7 linked regions of the Homo sapiens genome follow. The protein of the gene in region 1 interacts with the protein of each later gene in a biochemical or structural test. Each region holds a gene or a part of one and is shown on either strand. Other genes may lie near its edges.

The links.
Region 2: the proteins of MAPK14 (region 1) and NUP153 form a complex in vitro, tested with the Homo sapiens proteins (one study listed by IntAct).
Region 3: the proteins of MAPK14 (region 1) and ARHGAP9 are reported together in a solved structure, tested with the Homo sapiens proteins (one study listed by BioGRID).
Region 4: of the proteins of MAPK14 (region 1) and EPS15, one has a biochemical effect on the other in vitro, tested with the Homo sapiens proteins (one study listed by BioGRID).
Region 5: of the proteins of MAPK14 (region 1) and LIMK1, one has a biochemical effect on the other in vitro, tested with the Homo sapiens proteins (one study listed by BioGRID and IntAct).
Region 6: the proteins of MAPK14 (region 1) and DUSP16 form a complex in vitro, tested with the Homo sapiens proteins (one study listed by BioGRID).
Region 7: the proteins of MAPK14 (region 1) and CDC25A form a complex in vitro, tested with the Homo sapiens proteins (one study listed by BioGRID).

Annotation. Positions count from the first base shown.
Region 1 is NC_000006.12:36,034,308-36,037,807, forward strand, and holds part of MAPK14 (mitogen-activated protein kinase 14), read left to right. Parts: intron 1-3,500. UniProt on the Homo sapiens protein: Serine/threonine kinase which acts as an essential component of the MAP kinase signal transduction pathway.
Region 2 is NC_000006.12:17,614,537-17,617,231, reverse strand, and holds the end of NUP153 (nuclear pore complex protein Nup153), read left to right. Parts: intron 1-536; coding exon 537-705; intron 706-1,050; coding exon 1,051-1,135; 3' UTR 1,136-2,195; downstream 2,196-2,695. UniProt on the Homo sapiens protein: Component of the nuclear pore complex (NPC), a complex required for the trafficking across the nuclear envelope. Functions as a scaffolding element in the nuclear phase of the NPC essential for normal nucleocytoplasmic transport of proteins and mRNAs.
Region 3 is NC_000012.12:57,471,769-57,474,317, forward strand, and holds the end of ARHGAP9 (rho GTPase-activating protein 9), read right to left. Parts: intron 2,409-2,549; coding exon 2,274-2,408; intron 1,941-2,273; coding exon 1,835-1,940; intron 921-1,834; coding exon 749-920; 3' UTR 501-748; downstream 1-500. Other genes in the region: zinc finger protein GLI1, read left to right, coding at 1-293. UniProt on the Homo sapiens protein: GTPase activator for the Rho-type GTPases by converting them to an inactive GDP-bound state. Has a substantial GAP activity toward CDC42 and RAC1 and less toward RHOA. Has a role in regulating adhesion of hematopoietic cells to the extracellular matrix.
Region 4 is NC_000001.11:51,400,767-51,404,266, reverse strand, and holds part of EPS15 (epidermal growth factor receptor substrate 15), read left to right. Parts: intron 1-734; coding exon 735-848; intron 849-1,741; coding exon 1,742-1,832; intron 1,833-3,313; coding exon 3,314-3,349; intron 3,350-3,500. UniProt on the Homo sapiens protein: Involved in cell growth regulation. May be involved in the regulation of mitogenic signals and control of cell proliferation. Involved in the internalization of ligand-inducible receptors of the receptor tyrosine kinase (RTK) type, in particular EGFR.
Region 5 is NC_000007.14:74,118,304-74,121,803, forward strand, and holds part of LIMK1 (LIM domain kinase 1), read left to right. Parts: intron 1-2,279; coding exon 2,280-2,335; intron 2,336-2,588; coding exon 2,589-2,746; intron 2,747-2,835; coding exon 2,836-2,998; 3' UTR 2,999-3,500. UniProt on the Homo sapiens protein: Serine/threonine-protein kinase that plays an essential role in the regulation of actin filament dynamics. Acts downstream of several Rho family GTPase signal transduction pathways.
Region 6 is NC_000012.12:12,479,364-12,482,863, reverse strand, and holds part of DUSP16 (dual specificity protein phosphatase 16), read left to right. Parts: intron 1-2,517; coding exon 2,518-2,641; intron 2,642-3,500. UniProt on the Homo sapiens protein: Dual specificity protein phosphatase involved in the inactivation of MAP kinases. Dephosphorylates MAPK10 bound to ARRB2.
Region 7 is NC_000003.12:48,160,918-48,164,417, reverse strand, and holds part of CDC25A (M-phase inducer phosphatase 1), read left to right. Parts: coding exon 1-111; intron 112-3,500. UniProt on the Homo sapiens protein: Tyrosine protein phosphatase which functions as a dosage-dependent inducer of mitotic progression. Directly dephosphorylates CDK1 and stimulates its kinase activity. Also dephosphorylates CDK2 in complex with cyclin-E, in vitro.

The sequences.
Region 1 (3,500 bases):
AATTCCTGAATTTATGAATCCTATTGGATTGAAATTCTTCAGTGTACATTTATGTAAAGTTGGGACTGTCTGTACATGTTTGTGTTACATAAGTATAGGATATAAATAGAAATAACTGCCTCTCCAGCCCTTTGAAAATACATTAGATTTTTGCTTTTTGCAGTAAAATTTGGGGTAAAACTGATTTGTTCTTATCTAAGAGGTATAATTACTGCAGTGCTCAGAAAAGCCTCATTATAAAGTGGGCTCCCCTGACTTGGAACTTAGGGATGTCTTCTCATGGCTGCTATGGAAGTCATGCAGCTGTTTCGTCAGGAAAATAACCAAAAACTTCTTTAAACTTGGAAATGTTTTTGTAAAAGAAACTTTCAGTATTCAGAGTAGTTTGTCTTTCACAGTGCTTCCATAAATTAAGCACAGGCACAACTCGTTTTATTATGCTTCACAGATAATTGCTTTTTTTTTGCAAATTGAAGGTTAGTGACAACCCTGTGGTAAGCGAGTCTTTTGGCACCATTTTTCCAAAAGCATGTGCTCACTTCATGTCTCTGTGTCACATTTTGGTAATTCTCGCAATATTTCTTTCTTTCTTTTTTTTTTTTTTTTTTTGAGACGGAGTTCTGCTCTGTCGCCCAGACTGGAGTGCCATGGTGCGATCTCGGCTCACTGCAACCTCCGCCTTCCGGTTTCAAGTGATTCTCCTGCCTCAGCCTCCCAAGTAGCTGGGACTACAGGCATGTGCCACCACACCTGGCTAATTTTTGTATTTTTAGTAGAGATGGGGTTTCACCATGTTGGTCAGGCTGGTCTCGAACTCCTGACCTTGTGATCTGCCTGCCTTGGCCTCCCAAAGTGCTGGGATTACAGGTGTGAGCCACCATGCCCGGCAGTTCTGCTGGGATTACAGGTGTGAGCCACTGTGCCCGGCAGTTCTCGCAATATTTCAAACTTTCTCATTATTATTAAATATTATGGGGATCTGAGATCACTGATCTTTGATGTTGCTGTTGTAATTGTTTTGAGGTGTCTGGAACCATGCCCATAGGCAGACTTAATTGATAAACATTGTGTGTGTTCTGACTGCTCTGCCAACCAGCTGTTCCCTCTCTCCATCTCCTAAGGCGTCCTTATTCCCTGAGACACAATAATACTGAAATTAGGCCAATTAATAACACTACAGTGGTTTCTGAATGTTCAAGTGAAAGGAATGTTTGCATGTCTCTTACTTTAAATCAAAAGCTAGAAATGATTAAGCATAGTGAGGAAGGCATGTCGAAAACTGAGATAAGCTGAAAGCTAGGCTTCTTGTACCAAACAGCCAATTTGTGAATGCAAATGAAAAGTTTTTGAAGGAAATTAAAAATTATATTCCAGTAAACAAATGAATGATTAGAAAGCAACACAGCCTTGTTGCTGAGCTGGAGAAAGTTTTAGTGGTCTGGATAAAAGATCAGACCAACCACAACATGCCCTTAAGTCAAAGCCTAATCTAGAGCAAAGCCCTAACTCTCTTTAATTGTATGAAGTTTGAGACAGGTGAGAAAGCTGCAAAAGATAAGTTTGAAGCTAGCAGAGGGTGGTTCATAGGTTTAAGGAAAGAACCTGTCTCCATAGCATAACTTATAGTGCAAGGTGGCTGGGGGCGGTGGCTAACACCTGTAATTTCAGCACTTTGGGAGGCTGAGGCAGGCAGATCATCTGAGGTCAGGAGTTTGAGACCAGCCTGGCCAACATGGCGAAACTCTGCCTCTAGAAAAAATACAAAAATTTGTTTTTTATATTTTTTGGTGTTGTGGTGTACACCTATAGTCCCAGCTGCTTGGGAGGCTGAGGCAGGAGAATTGCTTGAACCTGGGAAGTGGAGGTTGCAGTGAGCCACTGCAACCAAGTGGCAACCGAGATCGTGCCACTGCACTCCAGCCTGGGCGATAGAGCAAGAGTACATCTCAAAAAAAAAAAAAAAAAATCAATAGATGAGAAATTGCTTCTCAGGAATGAATAAATAAAGTAGTTTCTTGAGGTGGAATCTGCTGTTGGGGAAGATGCTTATGAACATTGTTGAAATGACAACAAAGGGTTTAGAATATTACATAAACTTAGTTGATAAAGCAGCAGCAAGGTTTGAGAGGATTGACTCCCATTTTGAAAGTAGTTCTACTGTGGGTAAAATGCTATCAAACACCATTGCAGGCTACAGAGAAATCTATCACGAAAGGAAGAATAAATCAATGCAGCAATTCACCGTTGTCTTATTTTTAGAAATTGCCATAGTCATTCCAGTCTTCAGCAGTTATCACCCTGAGTAGTCAGCAGCCATCACCCTGAGTAGGCAGCAGCCATCAACACTGAGACAAGACCCTCCACCAGCAAGAAGATAATAACTTGCTGAAGGCTCAGGTGACCCTTAGCATTTTTTAGCAAAAAAATATTTATTTATTTATTTATTTTTTCTAGATGGAGTCTCGCTCTGTTGCCCAGCCTGGAGTGCAGTGGCACGATCTTGGCTCACTGCACCCTCCACCTCCCAGGTTCAAGCAATTCTCCCACCTTAGCCTCCCGAGTAGCTGGGATTACAGGTGTGCACCACCATGCCCAGCCAATTTTTGTATTTTTAATAGAGATGGGGTTTCACCATGTTGGCTAGGCTGGTCTCAAACTCTTGACCTCAAGCGATCCTCCTGCCTCGGCCTCCCAAAGTGCTGAGAGTAATAGGTATGAGCCACTGTGCCCGGCTAATAAAATATTTTTAAATTAAGGTATGTGCATATATATATTTTTTTGACATACTGCTAGTGCATACTTAATAGACTACAGTATCATGTAAATATAACTTTTATATGCACTGGGAAACCAAAAAATTTATGTCACTCATTTTTTTGTGATATTCACTGTGTTGTGGTTGTCTGGAACTGAACTCATGATATCTTTGAGGTACACCTGTATGTATGTGTTAAGGATTTACAAAATTAACCAGCTTTCCCGTGCAGTGTTCAAGTCTTTTAATAATTTATTATAGGGAAGAAGAAGTGGTGGTTTGTAAATTCTGTACTTGACAAATGGATACTGGGTTTTGGGCATGCTTGGCTCCAAGGCTGAATGTTGGGGGAAAGAAGTATAGGAGAGTGAGGAGTCTAGGATTTCTAAGTTTTGGCCTTGGGCAAATGGATATATTTTAGTGCCATTTTCTGAACTTTGTGTTACAAAGTTACAAAAGAGTGTTACAGGGTACAAGATTGTAGAGAGAAAGGGGAAGGAGCATAGGTTCATGGTAATCTCCTTGAGGACAGGACTCATTATACCTTGAGTGCCTACCATGTATGGTTTGCCGTAAGTGCTGGAGATGAAATGTGAACAAAAGAGACAAAAATTTCTGCCTTAAGAAGCTATATTCTGGCCAGGTGCAGTGAGTGGCTCACACCTGTAATTCCTGCACTTTGGGAGGCCAAGGTAGGTTTCCTTGAGCCCAGTAGTTAGAAACCAGCATCCTGGGAAAAATGGGG
Region 2 (2,695 bases), about 18 Mb from region 1:
CCAGGGTGCCCTTTTCCCCTTGGTCATAGGTAAGTTGTGTGATTTGTTGGAGGTGTCAAGTATGTACTATGTGTCAGTGGAGAAAATAGTTTTCTTTAGATTAAAAGACCAGAATATTTTAATTCTTTGCATGTTTTTATATGTAAAGGTCAGAGTCTTTAATTTAAAAACCTATCATGTTGCGGCCGGGTGCAGTGGCTTACGCCTGTAATCCAGCACTTTGGGAGGCCGAGGTGGACAGATCACAAGGTCAGGAGATCGAGACCATCCTGGCCAACATGGTGAAACCACGTCTCTACTAAAATACAAAAAATTAGCCAGGCATGGTGGCACGCACCTATATAGTCCCAGCTACTGGGGAGGCTGAGGCAGGGGAATCACTTGAACCCAGGAGGCAAGGGTTGCAGTGAGCCAAGATTGTGCCACTGTACTCCAGCCTGGGCAAGAGAGCGAGACTCCGTCTCAAAAAACAAACAAACAAACAAAAAAACCTATCATTTTGCCCTAATGAAGTATTTCTGCTTTAACTATTGCAGGTTCGGCTTTCCAGTTTGGCAGCAGCACTACAAATTTCAACTTCACAAACAACAGTCCATCAGGAGTGTTCACATTTGGTGCAAATTCTAGCACACCTGCAGCCTCAGCCCAGCCTTCAGGCTCGGGGGGCTTTCCATTTAACCAGTCTCCAGCAGCATTTACAGTGGGGTAAGAGAATTTTTTATTGAAATGGAGAAGTTACATTGGTAAGGGTATGTGCATGTATATGTTTTGTTTTTAAAAGTCATCAAGATTCCGTATGGTTTGGGTAAAATTAAATATGTTCTCCAACATAAATTTACCATACTATAATTCTGGAGGATTATATTACAGTTTGAGAAAAAAATAACAGTAGCGTGTGTGTTAGGTGTAGCAGAAAATGTATATACCAATGTGAGTCTACTCCCCCCCCACCCGACCCCCCTTACCCTTGTGCTGCTCATGGTAAATGTTAGCATTTGGAAATTTTGCTCAGAGCATCATGTCACATTATGAAGTTTTTATTTTTCACAGGTCAAATGGGAAAAATGTGTTCTCTTCTTCTGGAACTTCATTCTCTGGTCGCAAGATAAAGACTGCTGTTAGACGCAGGAAATAAAGGTCACATTGGTGTTGTACTCAATTTTAACAACAGCTGGTGCCCTGCTTTCAGATACTGGATTGTACTTTGTGCTGGGGTTATCTGAAGTCAGATCTGCCTAAGGACTTCTTTAATTTTGGAATTTTCCTCCTTTCTCTTTCGTTACAGAAGCCCCACCCTGCCTCACCCACCCTTTTTTAAATAAATAAATAGCTAGACTGGTGACTGATTCTTCAGCAAAAATATTTTATGATCCAGCAGATTATTCACTGATTTGACATAGTCTGGCTGTACCCAGGAATGGAGCCTGCACGGTGAATGGCTTTGTATAGAACCTCTTTGTCTACACCATTATGTGCGCTGATAAGCGTTCATGGAACGCGTTGAAATTGTAATTATATCTGAGGAATTCTGTATAGATTAGAATTCTGTATAGATTAGAGAGTGTTGAAACGGATGATTTCTATGCTGAGTTTGTGCTGGTGTATGTGTGAAGTGAGTGAGTTGGGTGTATTGTGCGCTAAACTTTTCTGATAGAGGAAGCCTGATTAAAGAATGGTCCGTGCTAAGGACTTGTTAGATCTAGTTCACTCTCCATTTAATAATTATATGCTATTTCTATATTTTCATTCTCCTATCACCTGTCTTGCCTTTTTCATTATTTTATTATGAAACTTGTGTAAATACAATTTTGTTTCTGTACTTTTTGGCATAACATAAATCTGTGAACTTGAAATTTGAATTTTGTGTTAGAGATTTTTTTGTTGTTTGTTTAGTCTTGTCTCAGATTTTATTATGTAAATCCCATTATTCAAAGTTGCCTAAATCCATTTGGAAATCTTTAAAAAAAAAATTGGGGATTCTTAAAGTTGAATTTATTGGCTTTTCTGATCCAGTTTTGTTTGGACCAAAAACCAGTATTGTACAAAGTATTAAGCATATATTTTTATATTTACTAAAATGGACTGTGGTGACTTTGGATAATAAGGAAAAGTTTAATATTAAAGCCATGTTTATTACAGTATAATTAACATGTTAAACCATGGGATAAATGCCATCAATAAAAAATTATGACATACTTTTTGTTCTAGTTTTACCTCATAATGAAGGCACACAGTATTATTGGGGGGACTTTGTAAAATAAAGATTAACAGTGTCTCATTAGAAGAATACATTGACATGATTTAGACAACTCCTAAGAGAAAGGGAAAGTATCTGAAAGTATCTGAATGCACAACATATAGAAGGTACCCTACTTCTTGCCTGGTGCTAGGAATCATGCCTAATTTGCATATCGACTTAGGTACCTTTTTTAAAAGTTGAAAATACACACATTCATTTCTCTTTGTGCTTCTATCTTCCTTGGTAAGTTACTGGATAGTGTTTATTAAAGTTCTTGGAAATACATACACAAAAACTACAGTTGTCTCTTGGTGTGTGCAGGAGATTGTTCCCAGAACTGCACTCCCCCCCCCCCCCAGTTCTCCCGCCCCCAAACCACAATCCACAAATTTCAGCAGTGGACCCTGCAGAACCTGAGTATACCAAAAGCCAGCCCTCCGAATGTGCAGGTTTTAT
Region 3 (2,549 bases), on another chromosome or scaffold:
GCTGTGGTCATCCTGAGGTGGGCAGGCTAGGAGGGGGTCCTGCCTTGTACCCTCCTCCCGAAGGACAGGTATGTAACCCCCTGGACTCTCTTGATCTTGACAACACTCAGCTGGACTTTGTGGCTATTCTGGATGAGCCCCAGGGGCTGAGTCCTCCTCCTTCCCATGATCAGCGGGGCAGCTCTGGACATACCCCACCTCCCTCTGGGCCCCCCAACATGGCTGTGGGCAACATGAGTGTCTTACTGAGATCCCTACCTGGGGAAACAGAATTCCTCAACTCTAGTGCCTAAAGAGTAGGGAATCTCATCCATCACAGATCGCATTTCCTAAGGGGTTTCTATCCTTCCAGAAAAATTGGGGGAGCTGCAGTCCCATGCACAAGATGCCCCAGGGATGGGAGGTATGGGCTGGGGGCTATGTATAGTCTGTATACGTTTTGAGGAGAAATTTGATAATGACACTGTTTCCTGATAATAAAGGAACTGCATCAGAAAAAATACCATGCCACTTTATGTATTATTATGTTGGGGAGGAATGATAACAGGGAACAAGAAGAGAAGCAGGGGTTAATCCACTCACTTTCCTCTTTAGAGAAGCTCCCTCACCCATCCCAACACCTCAAGTCACACTCATGAAGATAGAGACAGTCATTTGGGAGATTTAAAGGGATATCCTCAAAACAGAACACCAGCCTCTCACCACCAGAGATGACCGGAAATATGTTTTCTCTTCTTCCTTCCCTGCATCAGGGGAAGAGGCTGGTGAAGTTGGTGAGCATCAGCTGGACCAGCTGCCCTGGGTAGAGAGCATGGGCTGCTGGGTCAGATGTCTCCTGCTCTGGCCGAAACAGGGTTGGTCCAAACACAATTCCCAGGTTGTGGGGTGTCATGCGATTCTTATCTGAGTGTGCTATCACCCTGTAAGCAAAGGCCAAGGAAGGGGATATATGGCAGCAGCTTGCCACTTCATAGCAATCTAACTAACCCTTCAAAGTTCTGAGCAGGGAAGAGTTCACTCTGGGATTCCTCCACATGGTAACAAAAAAACCAAGGAGATACAAGGAGAATGGAGATGGACCAGTGGAGAAACCTTCAGGATACAACCTGAAGATATAACTGCCTCTTCCGACTTCAGGGGCTGCCCCAAGAGTTCTGCCTGCTCACAGTTTGGGAGTCTTTAATTCAAGTGGCCATCCTCTCTCAGAAGTCACTGCCCAGGCCCAGTTCAACCAAAGAAGCCATCAGCAATGTCCCAATGGGAGACAAAGAGGCAGAGGGAAGGGAGAAGTAAGATTTCCCTTATTCCTTTCACAGCATCTTGGTTCCATTTCCCCACTTGATGCTGACCTTTAGGTTTTGACCTAAAGTCTTTGACGGGCACGGTGTAATCCCAGCACTTTGGGAGGCTGAGGTGGGTAAATCACCTGAGGTCAGGAGTTCGAGACCAGCCTGGCCAACATGGTGAAACCCCGTCTCTACTAAAAATACAAAAATTAGCCAGGCGTGGTGGCGGGCACCTGTAATCCCAGTTACTCAGGAGGCTGAGGCAGGAGAATTACTTGAACCCGGGAGGCAGAGGTTGCAGTGAGCTGAAATTGCGCCACTGCACTCCAGTCTGGGTGACAGAGCGAGACTCTGTCTCAAAAATAAATAAAATAAAAAAATAAAGGTTTTGACTCTGGTAATATGCTCCTGCACAGAGGTTGCCTGCTTCCTCACCTGCCCATTAAACTTAGGTGCTTCCCTACCTTCACTCCACCTGCACAGAGTCCCTGTGGCATTCCCCACTCCACCTTTCCCCAGCATGAACAAAGAGGTTCTGTCTTCCTGACCTGCATAAATGCTCCAGGAGGTACCGTAGAGTGTCATGGTTGGGCTTTGGCATTGAGCCTATTAATTCTTGTATCTGAGAGAGGCACTGCTCTGATTCGGAGAGTGCTAGAGAGAGTGATGGGAAAGGCATGGTAGTAAGGTTAGGGAAGGTGCTAGGACAGGATGGGTAAATGCACTGCTCTTTCCCACAGGCATGGAAGACATCATTAATCTAGCACAGCTTTCTTTTTCACATAGCCCAACTATAGCCTCATAATTCTTTTCAATTCAGCCCTCTAAACATTCACAAAAAAGCAACTGGAGTAGGCACCTGAGTTGAACATTATTTTCCATCTCTAAAGTCAGAATGGGAAAGAAGAGTATAAGGGAACCTCTATTCTATTATTTACCACCCGTGTCCCCCACATCAAGGGTTCTTTCCAAAGCTCCAACCCTTACCAAGGGCAGCACGGAAATGGGGCAGCAGCAGTGGTGGCACCAGAGGCTGGGGCAGCTCCCGGAGAAAAAGCTTCAGGGCTCCGGTGACCACATGAATGTCATCCCACTCAGTACTGTCCAAATCTAACCGACCTTCTGGAGGGAGAAGGAGGTATAGGGGCTCATGAAGGGCCAGAAAGATTTAGAGACTGAGAGATTAGAAGTTCTGGAGAAATCCAGTCAAAGCAGACTATAGGAATGCCTAGAGGGTCTGCAGTGGGGCAAGGTAGCTAAGGT
Region 4 (3,500 bases), on another chromosome or scaffold:
TTAAGCTATTCTCCTGCCTCAGCCTCCCGAGTAGCTGGGACTACAGGCGTGTGCCACCACACCTGGCTAATTTTTTGCATTTTTAGTAGAGACGGGGTTTCACCGTGTTAGCCAGGAAGGTCTCGATCTCCTGACCTTGTGATCTGCCTGCCTCGGCCTCCCAAAGTGCTGGGATTACAGGTGTGAGCCACTGCATCCGGCCTGCCCCTACTACTTCTTAAGTCTTTCACCCACTCGTCTAAATGAAGAAGACAATGGGAAGCCATTGAAGGACTTTTAACCAGAAGGGTCACGATCACATCCACATTTTAGAGCTATTAGTTTGGCTACAATAAGGAGAAGAGATTGGAAATACATGTATTGGAGGCAGGAAAGCAGTTGGAAGGAAGACTGCTATAGTAATTGGAACCAAAGATGATAGTACTATAAGTGATTGATAGTGACAGTGAGGATGGAGAAGAAGGCAAGGATTTGAAAAAGAGGTAAGAGGTAGACTGAGCAAGACTTGGAGTCATATTCTGAGGATTAAAGATGACCTGAAGGTTTCTGACATGAGTGACTTTGATGCTTGATGACACCATTTCCCTAAAAAAGATTATAGAAGGAGAAGTTATTTGATGAATACATTCTGCTTGTCTTTTTTTATTTTTAAATAGTTTTTGGTTATCTTTAGTCAGTTTTCTCTGCCATGTCAAAAAGTATATTGTTAATCTACTTGCATTAATATTTTGTAGGCAAGAAGTAGTCCTGAACTACTGCCTTCTGGTGTGACTGATGAAAATGAGGTGACTACAGCTGTTACTGAAAAAGTTTGTTCTGAACTCGACAATAATAGACATTCAAAAGAGGTAAAAAATGATTTTATATTTACATTGGGGACTTGTAAGGGTGGAAGGACAGGAGGAGGTGAATTATCAGACATTACTTAATGGGTACAATATACATTATTCAGATGATAGATACATCAAAAGCCCCGACTTCACCTTTAGGCAATATAGCCATGTAACAAAATTCCACTTGTGCCCCTTGAATTTATACATATAAAATAAATAAATGTTCTTAATAGCTGGATGTGGTGGCAAGTGCCTGTAGTCCCAGCTACTCAGGAGGTGAAGTAGGTGGATTGCTTGAGCCTGAGTTGGAGGCACTAGGCAACATAGAGGGACCTAATCTCTAAAAATTAAATGATATTTTAAAAAAATGTCCTTATCACTGTTTTCCTCAGATGAATTATACACTATTTTAGGTGAAGGAAAGAGAAAAATATGTTAAGGTGAAGGAAAGAGAAAAATGTGTTAAAGGTGCTTTATGACTAGAGAGATATTTGTTACATTACCATCAGTTGATTTTCCTTTTGTTTTCAAGACCAAGTCTCACTCTGTCACCCAGCCTTGAGTGCAGTAGTGTGATCTTGGCTCACTGCAACCTCCACCTCCCAGGTTCAAGCAATTCTCCTGCCTCAGCCTCCTGAGTAGCTGCACATGCCCAGCTAATTTTTGTGTTTTTGGTAGAGACGGGGTTTCACCATTTTGGCCAGGATGGTCTCTATCTCTTGACCTTGTGATCTGCCCACGTCAGCCTCCCAAAGTGCTGGGATTACAGGTGTGAGCCACCGTGCCTGGCCCATCAGTTGATTTTTCAAAGCATGTGTATGACCTGAATGTGTGTTATTTTATTTTAAAATGTTACCTTTTAAAACTTTGGTTTCTAAAAAATAATTTTAATTTAAAATTATTTTTAGGAAGATCCATTTAATGTAGACTCAAGTTCGCTGACAGGTCCAGTTGCAGATACAAACTTGGATTTTTTCCAGTCTGATCCTTTTGTTGGCAGTAAGTACTCTTTTTTTTATATTATAGATTTACCCAAAAAAAAGACTTTTTAATATATAAACTAAGGATTCAAGGCTTCAGTTTCAATAGCCTACCAACTCAGTCTGTCGCCCAGGCTGGAGTGCAGTGGCACGATCTCGGCTCACTGCAACCTCCGCCTCCTGGGTTCAAGCGATTCTCCTGTCTCAGCCTCTTGAGTAGCTGAGACTACAGGCGCCCACCACCACACCCAGCTAATTTTATGTATGTATGTATGTATGTATGTGTGTATTTATTTATTTATGTAATTAATTTATTTAGAAATGGAGTCTCGCTCTGTCGCCAGGCTGGAGTGCAGTGGCACAATCTCGGCTCACTGCAACTTCTGCCTCCCGGATTCAAGCTAATCTCCTGCCTCAGCCTCCTGAGTAGTTGGGATTGCAGGTGCCTGCCACCACACCCAGCTAACTTTTGTGTTTTTAGTAGAGGCGGGGTTTCACCATGTTGGCCAGGATGGTCTCCATCTCTTGACCTCGTGATCCGCCCACGTTGGCCTCCCAAAGTGCTGGGATTACAGGCGTGAGCCACCGCGTCTGGCCTAATTTTTGTATTTTTAGTAGAGACTGGGTTTCACCATTTTGACCAGGCTGGTCTTGAACTCCTGATGTAAGGTGATCCGCCTGCCTCGGCCTTCTAAAGTGCTGGGATTACAGGTGTGAGCCACTGCGCCTGGCCTGCTTTGTATTTTCCTACTGACTAATGTTGAACATCTTTCTAGATGCTTATTAGCCATTTGTGTATCTTCTTTGGAAAAGTGTTTATTCAATTTTGGTGAAGTCCAGTTATCTATTTTTTCTTCTGTCACTTGTGCTTTTGGTGTCATCTAAGAAACTATTACCTAAGTCGCAAAGATTTAATGCTGTCTTTGTCTAAGAGTTTTATAGTTTTGCTGTTACAGTTAGATCTTTGATCCATTTTGAGTTTATTTTTGTATATGATGTGAGATAGAGGTCGAGCTTCATTCTTTTGCAAGTGGATATCCAGTTGTCCTAACACCATTTGTTGAAAAGACTGTCCTTTCTCCATTTTGTGTTCTTGATACGCTTGTCAAAAATCAAATGACCATAAAGGTAAGGATTTATTTCTGGACTCTTCAATCCTGTAAGAATTTTTTTTTTTTTGCTTCAGTAAAGCTCAGTACCTTTATTTCTGAACTGGTGATGATAATACCCTCCCAGTACTCTTGTGGAGAGTAGAGATTTTGTTAGTAAAATTTTTGCTGTAATGTCTTCCCCTCCATCCGTAACCTCAACTTGTGATCAAGGTAAGTATAGTTGGCTGTATATTTCATAAGGTCAATGACATTCCTTATTTTATCTACTGTGAAGTGAAGTTATTGAAATAAACTTTGCTTTGCTTTTGTTTGAAAGTTACTCTTTAAGTAGTGGTGTCACCACAGTAAATATTGTTATTTGGATTTCTTTGTGTTTATTTTATCACAGGTGATCCTTTCAAGGATGATCCTTTTGGAAAAATCGGTCAGTATCTTATTGAGTTTCATCTTAGCTTTCATTCATTTCTGCTTAATAATAAGCTTATGTTATTTAGGTCTGAAACTGAAGCCCCAGTAAGATGCTCTATGTGCCTGGCATTTTCAGAAAGAGAGTAGTAAATTCTTTTGATTTTGCT
Region 5 (3,500 bases), on another chromosome or scaffold:
GAGGCGGAGCTTGCAGTGAGCCGAGATCGCACCACTGTACTCCAGCCTGACGACAGAGTGGGACTCTGTGTCAAACACACACACACACACACACACACACACACACACACACACACACACACAGAGTTAACATAGCCCGCAAAGAAGACTATAAAACAGTCTTAGTGGCCGGGCGCAGTGGTTCACGCTTGTAATCCCAGCACTTTGGGAGGCCGAGGCAGGTGGATCATGAGGTCAGGAGTTTGAGACCAGCCTGGCCAACACAGTGAAACCCCATCTCTACTAAAAATACAAAAATTAGCTGGACATGGTTTCGGGCGCCCGTAATCCCAGCTACTCAGGAGGCTGAGGCAGGAGAGTTGCTTGAACCCAGGAGGCAGAGGCAGGAGAGTTGCTTGAACCCAGGAGGCAGAGGTTGCAGTGGGCGACAGAGCAAGACTCTGTCTCAAAAAACAAAAAAGTCTTAGTGTTTCCTATGTTTAGGGATTAGTGTGAGGATTAAAGGTTGTAAACTCATTTCCACCTAGTTGGCATTCAGTAAATGAGAATTGACATTTAGTACTAATTGTTTCGGGTATTTTGTTTTTTGTTTTTTGTTTTTTGTTTTTTCTGAGACCGAGTCTTGCTCTGTCATCCAGGCTAGAATGCATGGTGCGATCTCGGCTCACTGCAAGCTCCGCCTCCCGGGTTCACACCATTCTCCTGCCTCAGCCTCCCACGTAGCTGGGACTACAGGCGCCCGCCACCACGCCTGGCTAATTTTTTGTATTTTTAGTAGAGACGGGGTTTCACCATGATCTCGATCTCCTGACCTCGTGATCCACCCGCCTCAGCCTCCCAAAGTGCTGGGATTACAGGTGTGAGCCACCGTGCCCGGCCAGTTTTTTGTTTTTGAGATGGAGTCTTGCATTGTCACCCAGGCTGGAGTACAGTGGCGTGATCTCGGCTCACTGCAACCTCCACCTCCTGGGTTCAAGTGATTCTCCTGCCTCAGTTTCCCTAGTAGCTGGGATTACAGGCACCTGCCACCATGCCTGGCTAATTTTTCTATTTTTAGTAGAGATGGGGTTTCACCATGTTGGCCAGGCTGATCTTGAACTCCTGACCTCAGGTGATCCACCCGCCTCGGCCTCCCAAAGTGCTGGGATTACAGGTGTGAACCACTGTGCCCGGCCATGTACCGATTATTTTTAACATCATTAAGTAGCTGGTATCATTCCCATTTTACAATAAGGAAACTGAGGCTCAGAGAGTCTGTGTCAGTTTCCTGAGGTTGCTGTAATAAATTGTTAGAAACTTGATTATTTAAAACAGCAGAAAATGGTCAGGCACAGTGGCTCACACCTGTAATCCCAGCACTTTGGGAGGCCGAGGCGGGCAGATCACTGGAGGTCAGGAGTTCGAGACCAGCCTGGCCAACATGGTGAAACACCATCTCTACTAAAAGTACAAAAATTAGCTGGGCATGGTGGCAGGCGCCTGTAATCCCAGCTACTCGGGAAATTGAGGCAGGAGAATCGCTTGAACCCAGGAGGCAGAGGTTGCAGTGAGCCACAATCGTACCACTGCACTCTTGCCTGGACAACAAAGCAAGACTCCATCTCAAGATAAAATAAACAGCAGAAATTTATTCCCTCTTAGTTTTGGAAGCCAGAAGGTTGAAATCCAACAGGGCTGCGCTCCCTCCAGGGCGATCTAGGGGAGAATGCATTCCTTGCCTCTTCCACCTTCTGGTTGTTTTGCATTCCTGGGCTTGTGGCCGCATCACTCCAGTCTCCACCCCTGTCTTCACAGGGCCACCTCCTCCTCTTCTGCTGTGTCTTCTCTGTGTCTCTCTCAAGAGGGCATTTGCAGTGGCATTTGGGGCCCACCCAGATCATCCAGCATCATCTCATCTCCAGATCCTTAACTTAATCCCATCTGCAAAAGACCCTTTTTCTGACCCAGTAACATTCACAGATTCCAGAGACCTGACATGGTTCCCTTTTGGGACCAGCACAGAGTTCATGACTTGTGCAAAGTCACGCAGCTGATCGGTGCCTCGAACTCCTTGTCCAGGGCTCTGCCCCTTGCTCCTCAGAGCTCCCAAAGGCTTGCTCAGACCTGGTGGGGTTGGGGGAAAGAGCCTAAGCCTGGGTTCCCATAGAGGTTGCCGGCATCTGCCTCCTGGGCCTGGACCTCCCGGCCGGGGCATCCTCCCAGCTGGCCTGGTCCCCTGCCTTTTGGCATCCCTGGCACCCCCATGTGTTCATCTGCTGACAGTCGGTCTCTTTATCCAGGCCGCAGCTATGATGAGAAGGTGGATGTGTTCTCCTTTGGGATCGTCCTGTGCGAGGTAGGTCCAGGGTTGGGTAGCAGCGGTGTTGAGGCCTGGGCTCCTCCCCACTCACCCAGGCTGCAGGCTCAGCATCTGCAGGGGCCTCATGCCAGGAAGCCTGCCCACAGCAAGGCATGGGCTGGCCCCCATGGGGTACTGCAGTCAGGCTGCAGCCAGGCCCAGTGCCACCTGCCCTCAAACCACCTGGATGGCACCCAGATGCCCAGGCTGAGGGCCCCCTGGAGTAACTGCCGGGCCTTGTACTGGACAGATCATCGGGCGGGTGAACGCAGACCCTGACTACCTGCCCCGCACCATGGACTTTGGCCTCAACGTGCGAGGATTCCTGGACCGCTACTGCCCCCCAAACTGCCCCCCGAGCTTCTTCCCCATCACCGTGCGCTGTTGCGATCTGGACCCCGAGAAGAGGTGAGTGGGGTGGGGCCCTGGCCTGGGAGACGGTGGGGCCGATTCCCGGGACAGCCAGACCCACCGTTCCCCACCCACCTGTCACCCAGGCCATCCTTTGTGAAGCTGGAACACTGGCTGGAGACCCTCCGCATGCACCTGGCCGGCCACCTGCCACTGGGCCCACAGCTGGAGCAGCTGGACAGAGGTTTCTGGGAGACCTACCGGCGCGGCGAGAGCGGACTGCCTGCCCACCCTGAGGTCCCCGACTGAGCCAGGGCCACTCAGCTGCCCCTGTCCCCACCTCTGGAGAATCCACCCCCACCAGATTCCTCCGCGGGAGGTGGCCCTCAGCTGGGACAGTGGGGACCCAGGCTTCTCCTCAGAGCCAGGCCCTGACTTGCCTTCTCCCACCCCGTGGACCGCTTCCCCTGCCTTCTCTCTGCCGTGGCCCAGAGCCGGCCCAGCTGCACACACACACCATGCTCTCGCCCTGCTGTAACCTCTGTCTTGGCAGGGCTGTCCCCTCTTGCTTCTCCTTGCATGAGCTGGAGGGCCTGTGTGAGTTACGCCCCTTTCCACACGCCGCTGCCCCAGCAACCCTGTTCACGCTCCACCTGTCTGGTCCATAGCTCCCTGGAGGCTGGGCCAGGAGGCAGCCTCCGAACCATGCCCCATATAACGCTTGGGTGCGTGGGAGGGCGCACATCAGGGCAGAGGCCAAGTTCCAGGTGTCTGTGTTCCCAGGAACCAAATGGGGAGTCTGGGGCCCGTT
Region 6 (3,500 bases), on another chromosome or scaffold:
TGGTGTGCACCTGTAGTCCTAGCTGGGAGGCTGAGGCAGGAGGATCGCTTGAGCCTAGGAGCTCACAGTTACAGTGAGCTATGTTTGCACTATGGCACTCCAGCCTGGATGAACAGAGTGAGACCCTGTCTGAAAAAACAAATGTAGCCCTTAGCCTAACATTCCCACCACCCTCAAACACCTGCTTCCCACCTTTGAAACCTTCTCAAACCTTCTCTCTGGTTTCTTCTCCAAGGCAGGCTGTTTTCGAATGAGCACTTTGCTCAGTCCCACTGCAGGGCTTTCTCGCACACATTTCCCTTCTCCTCTCTGCCAGTTGTGTGTGTTAAATTAATTCCTTTGCTTGAAGACACAGTTTAGGGCTCATGTCTCCCAAGATGCATGCTGGTGAACCTCAACTCCAGTATAGTCACTTGTTTTTTTCATTTTTAAAAGACGTCATCAAAAGAGTTGTGGTTATAAAAACAGTTGTAAGCACATTGCAGAAAATTTGAAAAACAGAGAAAAGGAAACCTATAACCTCAACATCGTAACGCATGTTACTGTCATTGTTTTATTTCCTTCCAGCCTTCTTCTTTTTTTATTAAAATCTCTTTTGAAAATATGTATCAGCCAGTATCAGCTGGATGCCTACCATGTGCCTAGCGTTAAGTCTTTTGGGGGATTGTTAGAAGCAAGCAAGATCCTTCTAGGTCCTTATAATCTAGGTTTTGAGATAGATAATTATTAAAATTAATGAGAGAGTATTGTCAACATTAAAAAACAAAAACCCAGACTCCTTCCAGTAAGGATTTGAAGCAGTTTTCAATAATAGGTTAGAACCAAAAGATACACATATTCTCACACATACACATTATAATGGTATAAAGGAGCAATAATCAAGTAATAGGGGCTAGGAAATGTACAGTAACTGACAAAAAGTCTGAATTGCTACTTCTTATTGAAATTGAGTAGAAACCTTAGCTTTGAGCTTCTTAGCAGTAGGGCAGAAAGGGAAGGAAACACTGAGAGTAACGTGGGGTAAATGATAGCTGAGAAGGAAGGGGATGCTGGAGGCACAGGAAGGCATGAGACTGTGTACACGAGTTTATATGTTCTTACTTGTATAGCATGCAATTCTTTGTTTGAGTGTTGCTTGGTATTCATTTGTTAGTGTTTTATTGTGTTTGGTTTCCTGATCTAGAAGGGAAGCTGCTTGCTGCTTAATTATTCATATGCTACCCAAAACCTGTATGTTGCTTTATATATGATGAATAATTATGTTATATATAATAATCATTACACTAGAAACTTATATTTATAGCATAGGCAGTGAGATTGAATAGCTTTGTATTATTCAGCTGCCAAAGTAAGATTCTTTGCGCATCTGTTAATCGCAAGAATTTTAACACAAGGTTCAGTAGACTTTTGGTAGTATCTACCAAGAATGAAAAGGGGAGAATTCAGCTTCATGACTGAGCACACATGTAATTATTTAGAATTGAGGCAGTCATGGAACTGGCCAGAATGTTAGTAGCTTCCAGGCTGTGTGGAATAACCTCGTCCCCTGCCACATGTACATATTGTTAAGCCCCTCAGCAGTGAGAGATGGCAGCACTGCTTGGATTTCCTTGGTTCTTTGGTTCTAACAAAGTGTCCGTGAGTCCTTCCATCATGTTGTGGGGAATTGAGATAATGCCATAAGACAATAACTCCTGGTATCAAGGAAGGGATAAAAGTTCTCTTGGATCTCATTAAAGTGACCTGCTAAACCTGATTCATAGCCTATACAAGGTTTTCTTCTAAAACTCAGTAAATAAAGTTGAGCCATTTTATGACATACAGAAAAGTTGCTTAAAATAGGGAGGCCAGGGGCAGTGGCTCACTCCTGTAATCCCAGCACTTTGGGAGGCTGAGGTGGACGGATCACTTGAGGCCAGGAGTTAGAGACCAGCCTGCCCAACATGGTGAAACCGCAACTCCACTAAAAATAGAAAAATTAGCCAGGCGTGGTGCTGCACACCTGTAATCCCAGCTACTCTGGAGGCTAAGGCAGGAGAATCACTTGAATCCGGGAGGCGGAGATTGCAATGAGCCGACATCGTGCACTCCAGCCTGGGCGACAGAGCAAGACTCTATCTCAAAATAGTAATAATGATTTTAAAAAATGTAATTATATTTCTTAGGTAATCAGGGAAAAATTTGAAGTGTCAGATAACAGGAATATATTAAATATTACCCATATCTTAGGGGAAAATACTAACATAAGTCAGGAAACCTGAGTTAGTAGTAGCTTGCTTATTAACGAATTGCTTATTAACAAACAGTTTTGGACCCCAGTTGTCCTGCATGTCAGTGGTGAGGGAATTATCTTCCCCTGCCTCCTCAAAAGAATATTGCGAGGATAAATATGATATACACAGATGAGATTTGCGTAGAGGTTTTCAGGTGGAAGACACTGAGTAAGTAAATGGAAACAAGATTTCACTGCTGAACAAAATAGTTAGTAGTGACCTTTCTTGCATTTGACTTATACAGAGAAAGCAAAAGCCTCCAATGGATGTGTTCTAGTGCACTGTTTAGCTGGGATCTCCCGCTCCGCCACCATCGCTATCGCCTACATCATGAAGAGGATGGACATGTCTTTAGATGAAGCTTACAGGTGAGGGCAGGAAAATGTCTTCTGTGATTGGCTTTTCATTTGACCTGAAACATAAAGAATGATGAGGATGGGTAACCAAATTAAAGCAGATCATGATTATTTTAGTCACATTTTTTACAGGTTACTGTGGATTTTTTAATGGTCTTGTGAAGATTGGAAAAGAATGCTGTTTTACTATTTAGCATTAATTCTGCCTTCACATGTGTCAGACTCATCCTCAGCCACTTTTTATGTTTAAGGAACAACAGATCCAGGCAGAGATCTCTATCCTGTTACATGAGTTTATTGCTTTCCCTAAATGCAAAAGTATCCTTTGTTTTAATTTGCATATGATGGGGGGAAGCTCTAATAGAATGCTCACTGCAGAATCTCTGTTCTGCTTCAAACTTTGGATTGCTGGGAAGAAAAAGCCTCATAAATGCAAATATGAACCAGATTAACTGTCAGACTCCATTCTTCAGTAAAATTTCCTACATTCTAGAGTCGGCCAGATTGTGTGTGTGTGATTTTGACTGGGTTGCCTCCAGTCTCTGATTTGTCTGACTCCCCTGCATGTATCGTTGGGTAGAGATGGTTCATTTTTATCTGATAAGGAATCAAAAATATAGAGACTCATGGAGCAGGCCTGATTTAACAGTTGGATTTTTTTTTTCTCAAATTGCAAAGTTTGGAAAACAGAAATGAGCTGCCCAAACAGCTTCCCATGTTAAGTCAGCAGCCTGGAGGACGTGGGTCCTCTGGTCATCTGCACGAGCTCTCATGCCGCCGTTCAGACCTCCCTGAGGTCCTCCTGCTCCATGTAGAAATCAGAAGAAAAGGCACCCTTCTATCACGTTATGAAGTCTCATTATGAGCACCC
Region 7 (3,500 bases), on another chromosome or scaffold:
GGAAGAAGAGGTTGAAGACTTCTTATTGAAGAAGCCCATTGTACCTACTGATGGCAAGCGTGTCATTGTTGTGTTTCACTGCGAGTTTTCTTCTGAGAGAGGTCCCCGCATGTGAGTGCTGCACGGAACTGGGTTCTGGGGCACAGGCTCCATGATGCTTTTGTGGGACATGGTGGTTTGTGGCTTGCACTTGGAGCATATTTTAGCATATCAAGCAACCTCTGGCACATAACAAGCCATTTTCATATGTAATTTTATCCTGAGGTGAACTTTGGCTCTTCCAGTCTCCCCGACTGTCCTTAGTCTGATCTGTGGGGCTACTGTTCTCATGTGACCTCCTTCAAGTACAAAGTGACCGTTCCTTATGCAAATGCCAGAAAAGTGTGAAGTTCTCATTCTGTAAAACCTCATATGATATGATGCTTTGAAACACTTGATATTATTACCAATTTCAGGGTGAAAAGAAAAAAGGGGGCCAAAGAGCTGCCCATCAGTCATCTGTGTCCATTCTAAAAGGATTGCAAGCCTGCTGTTTGTCAGGCACTGACAATAAAAATGTAACTACAGTAAAACACAGTACAGTAAAAATACCACAGCGAGCAGGACCAACAAGGACCCTACTGCAGCAGAGATCCAAGTGGGGATCCGTATAAATGCTAGGAGGACAGGCAGAGAGGTAGGACAGAGAGTGCAGCTTAACTAGGATGGTCCAAGGGAGACTTCTGCAGGACCACGTTCTTATGCCACCTTTTTATTTTGAACCAATTTATTTTAAAAAACATTTTTAAATTAAAAAATTTCAATTTTTTTTTTTTGACGGAGTTTTGCTCTTGTTGCCCAGGCTGGAGTGCAGTGGCACAATCTCTTCTCACTGCAACCTCTGCCTCCCAGGTTCAAGCAGTTCTCCTGCCTCAGCCTCCCAAGTAGCTGGGATTACAGGCATGCGCCATCACGCCCGGCTAATTTTGTATTTTTAGTAGAGGCAGGGTTTCTACATGTTGGTCAGGCTGGTCTTGAACTCCCGACCTTAGGTGATCCGCCTGCCTCAGCCTCCCAAAGTAGTGGGATTACAGGCGTGAGCCACTGCACCTGGCTTTTTCTTTCTTTCTTTCTTTCTTTTTTTTTTTTTTTTTTGAGGCGGAGGCACACTGTTTTCACCCAGACTGGAATGCAGTGGCATGATCTCGGCTCACTGCAACCTCCACCTCCTGGGTTCAAGCGATTCTCCTGCCTCAGCCTCCTGAGTAGCTGGGATAACAGGCGTGCACCACCACACCCGGCTAATTTTTGTATTTGTAGTAGAGATGGGGGTTTCACCATGTTGGCCGGGCTGGTCTTGAACTCCTGACCTCAGGTGATCCACCCGCCTTGACCTCCCAAAGTGCTGGGATTACAGGTGTGAGCCACCACGCCCAGCAGAAATTTCAAATTTTGAGATGGGGTCTTAATATATTGGCCAGGTTGGTCTCAAACTCCTGGCCTCAAGCAATCCTCTCTCCTTGGCCTCCAAAGTGCTAGGATTGCAGGCATGAGCCACTGTGCCCACCCCTTTGAACCTTTTTTTTTTTTTGAGACGGAGTCTCGCTCTGTCACCCAGGCTGGAGTGCAGTGGCACAATCTCGACTTACTGCAAGCTCCGCCTCCTGGGTTCATGCCATTCTCCTGCCTCAGCCTCCCGAGTAGCTGGGACTACAGGTGCCCACCATCACGCCTGGCTAATTTTTTTGTATTTTTAGTAGAGACAGGGTTTCACCATTTTAGCCAGGATGGTCTCCATCTCCTGACCTTGCGATCTGCCCGTCTCGGCCTCCCAAAGTGCTTGGATTACAGGCGTGAGCCACTGCGCCTGACCTGAACCATTTTAAAGCTCAAGAAGAGGTGAGGTTATGGCTGGGCACAGTGGCACCTGTAATCCCAACACTTTGGGAGGCCGAGGCAGGAGGATCACTTGCTCGGGAGTTTCAGACCAGACCAACCTGGGTAACACAGTGGGACCACACCTCTACAAAAAATAGGAGGTGGGAGGATCGTTTGAGCCCAGCAGGTCGAGGCTGTGGTGAGCCATGATCATGCCACTGTACTCCAGCCTAGGTGACAGAGTGAGATTCTGTCTCTCTCTCACACACACACACACACACACACACACACACAAAGGTTATACTTGCACACACTTCACCTGATTTTATTAATTTTTAACATTTTGTCACATTTGTATGTACATGCTCTACACACAGGCAACTACAGTACAACTTGACACTTTTGACTGTCATCTCATAAGTCCTTCAAACATCTGTCTCCAAAGGATGCTCATTCATGAATGGAATTATTCACTCAGCAGTTTTTTTGTTTGTTTGTTTGAGATGTAGTCTTGCTCTGCCACCCAGACTGGAGTGCAGTGGTGCGATCTCGGATCACTGCAACCTCCACCTCCCGGGTTCAAGCAATTCTCCTGCCTCAGGCTCCCAAGTAGCTGGGACTACGGGTGCATGCCACCATGCCAAGCTAATGTTTGTATTTTTAGTAGAGACGGGGTTTTGCTACATTGGCCAGGCTGGTCTCGAACTCCTGACCTCAAGTGATCTACCCGCCTCAGCCTCCCAAAGTGCTGGGATTATAGGCCTGAAACAAACTAATCTGGACACACATACACACACATGTAAATTGTTTTTAAACCCACAAAAGATGCTGCTCTCTTTTTTTTTTATTTTTGAGTCAGGGTCAGTCTCTGTTGTCCAGGCTGGAGTACAGTGGCAGGAGCACAGCTCACTGTAGCCTCTGCCTCCCAGGCTCAAGTGATTCTCCCACCTCAGCCTCCCAGGAAGCTAGGACCACAAACATGCATCACCATGCCTGGCTAATTTTTGTATTTTTTATAGAGACAGGGTCTCACTGTGTTGCCCAGGCTGGTCTCAAACTCCTGGGCTCAGGCAATCCTGGCCTCCCAAAGTGCTTGGATTACAGGTGTGAGCCGCCATGCCCAGCCCAAAAGATGCTATTCTCTTAATCTCTCATTTCCCCATCTTCCTCTTTAACACCTCTAATATAAAGGACATTATTATACCATATTGAAACTTCACCTAGATATACAGAAAACGCCCCATCTCTGTATTCTGTATTTGCAAGCTGCATGTTTATATCACCATCTACAGATACCCCTTACACTTCGTTCCCCACTTGAGTTTCGCCATCACTGGCTTTCTGTTGTTCCACTGGGGAAAGATTTGGGATTCACAGGTGAACTCTTTTTTTTTTTTTTTTTTTTTTTTGAGTTGGAATCTCGCCCTTTCGCCCAGGCTGGAATGCAGTGGCACAATCTCGGCTCACTGCAGCCTCCTCCTCCCGGGTTCAAGCATTTCTCTGCCTCAGCCTCCCAAGTAGCTGGGATTACAGGCACCTGCCACCACGCCCAGCTAATTTTTTGTAGTTTTAGTAGACACAGGGTTTCACTATCTTGGCCAGGCTGGTCTCGAACTCCTGACCTCGTGATCCACCGCCTCAGC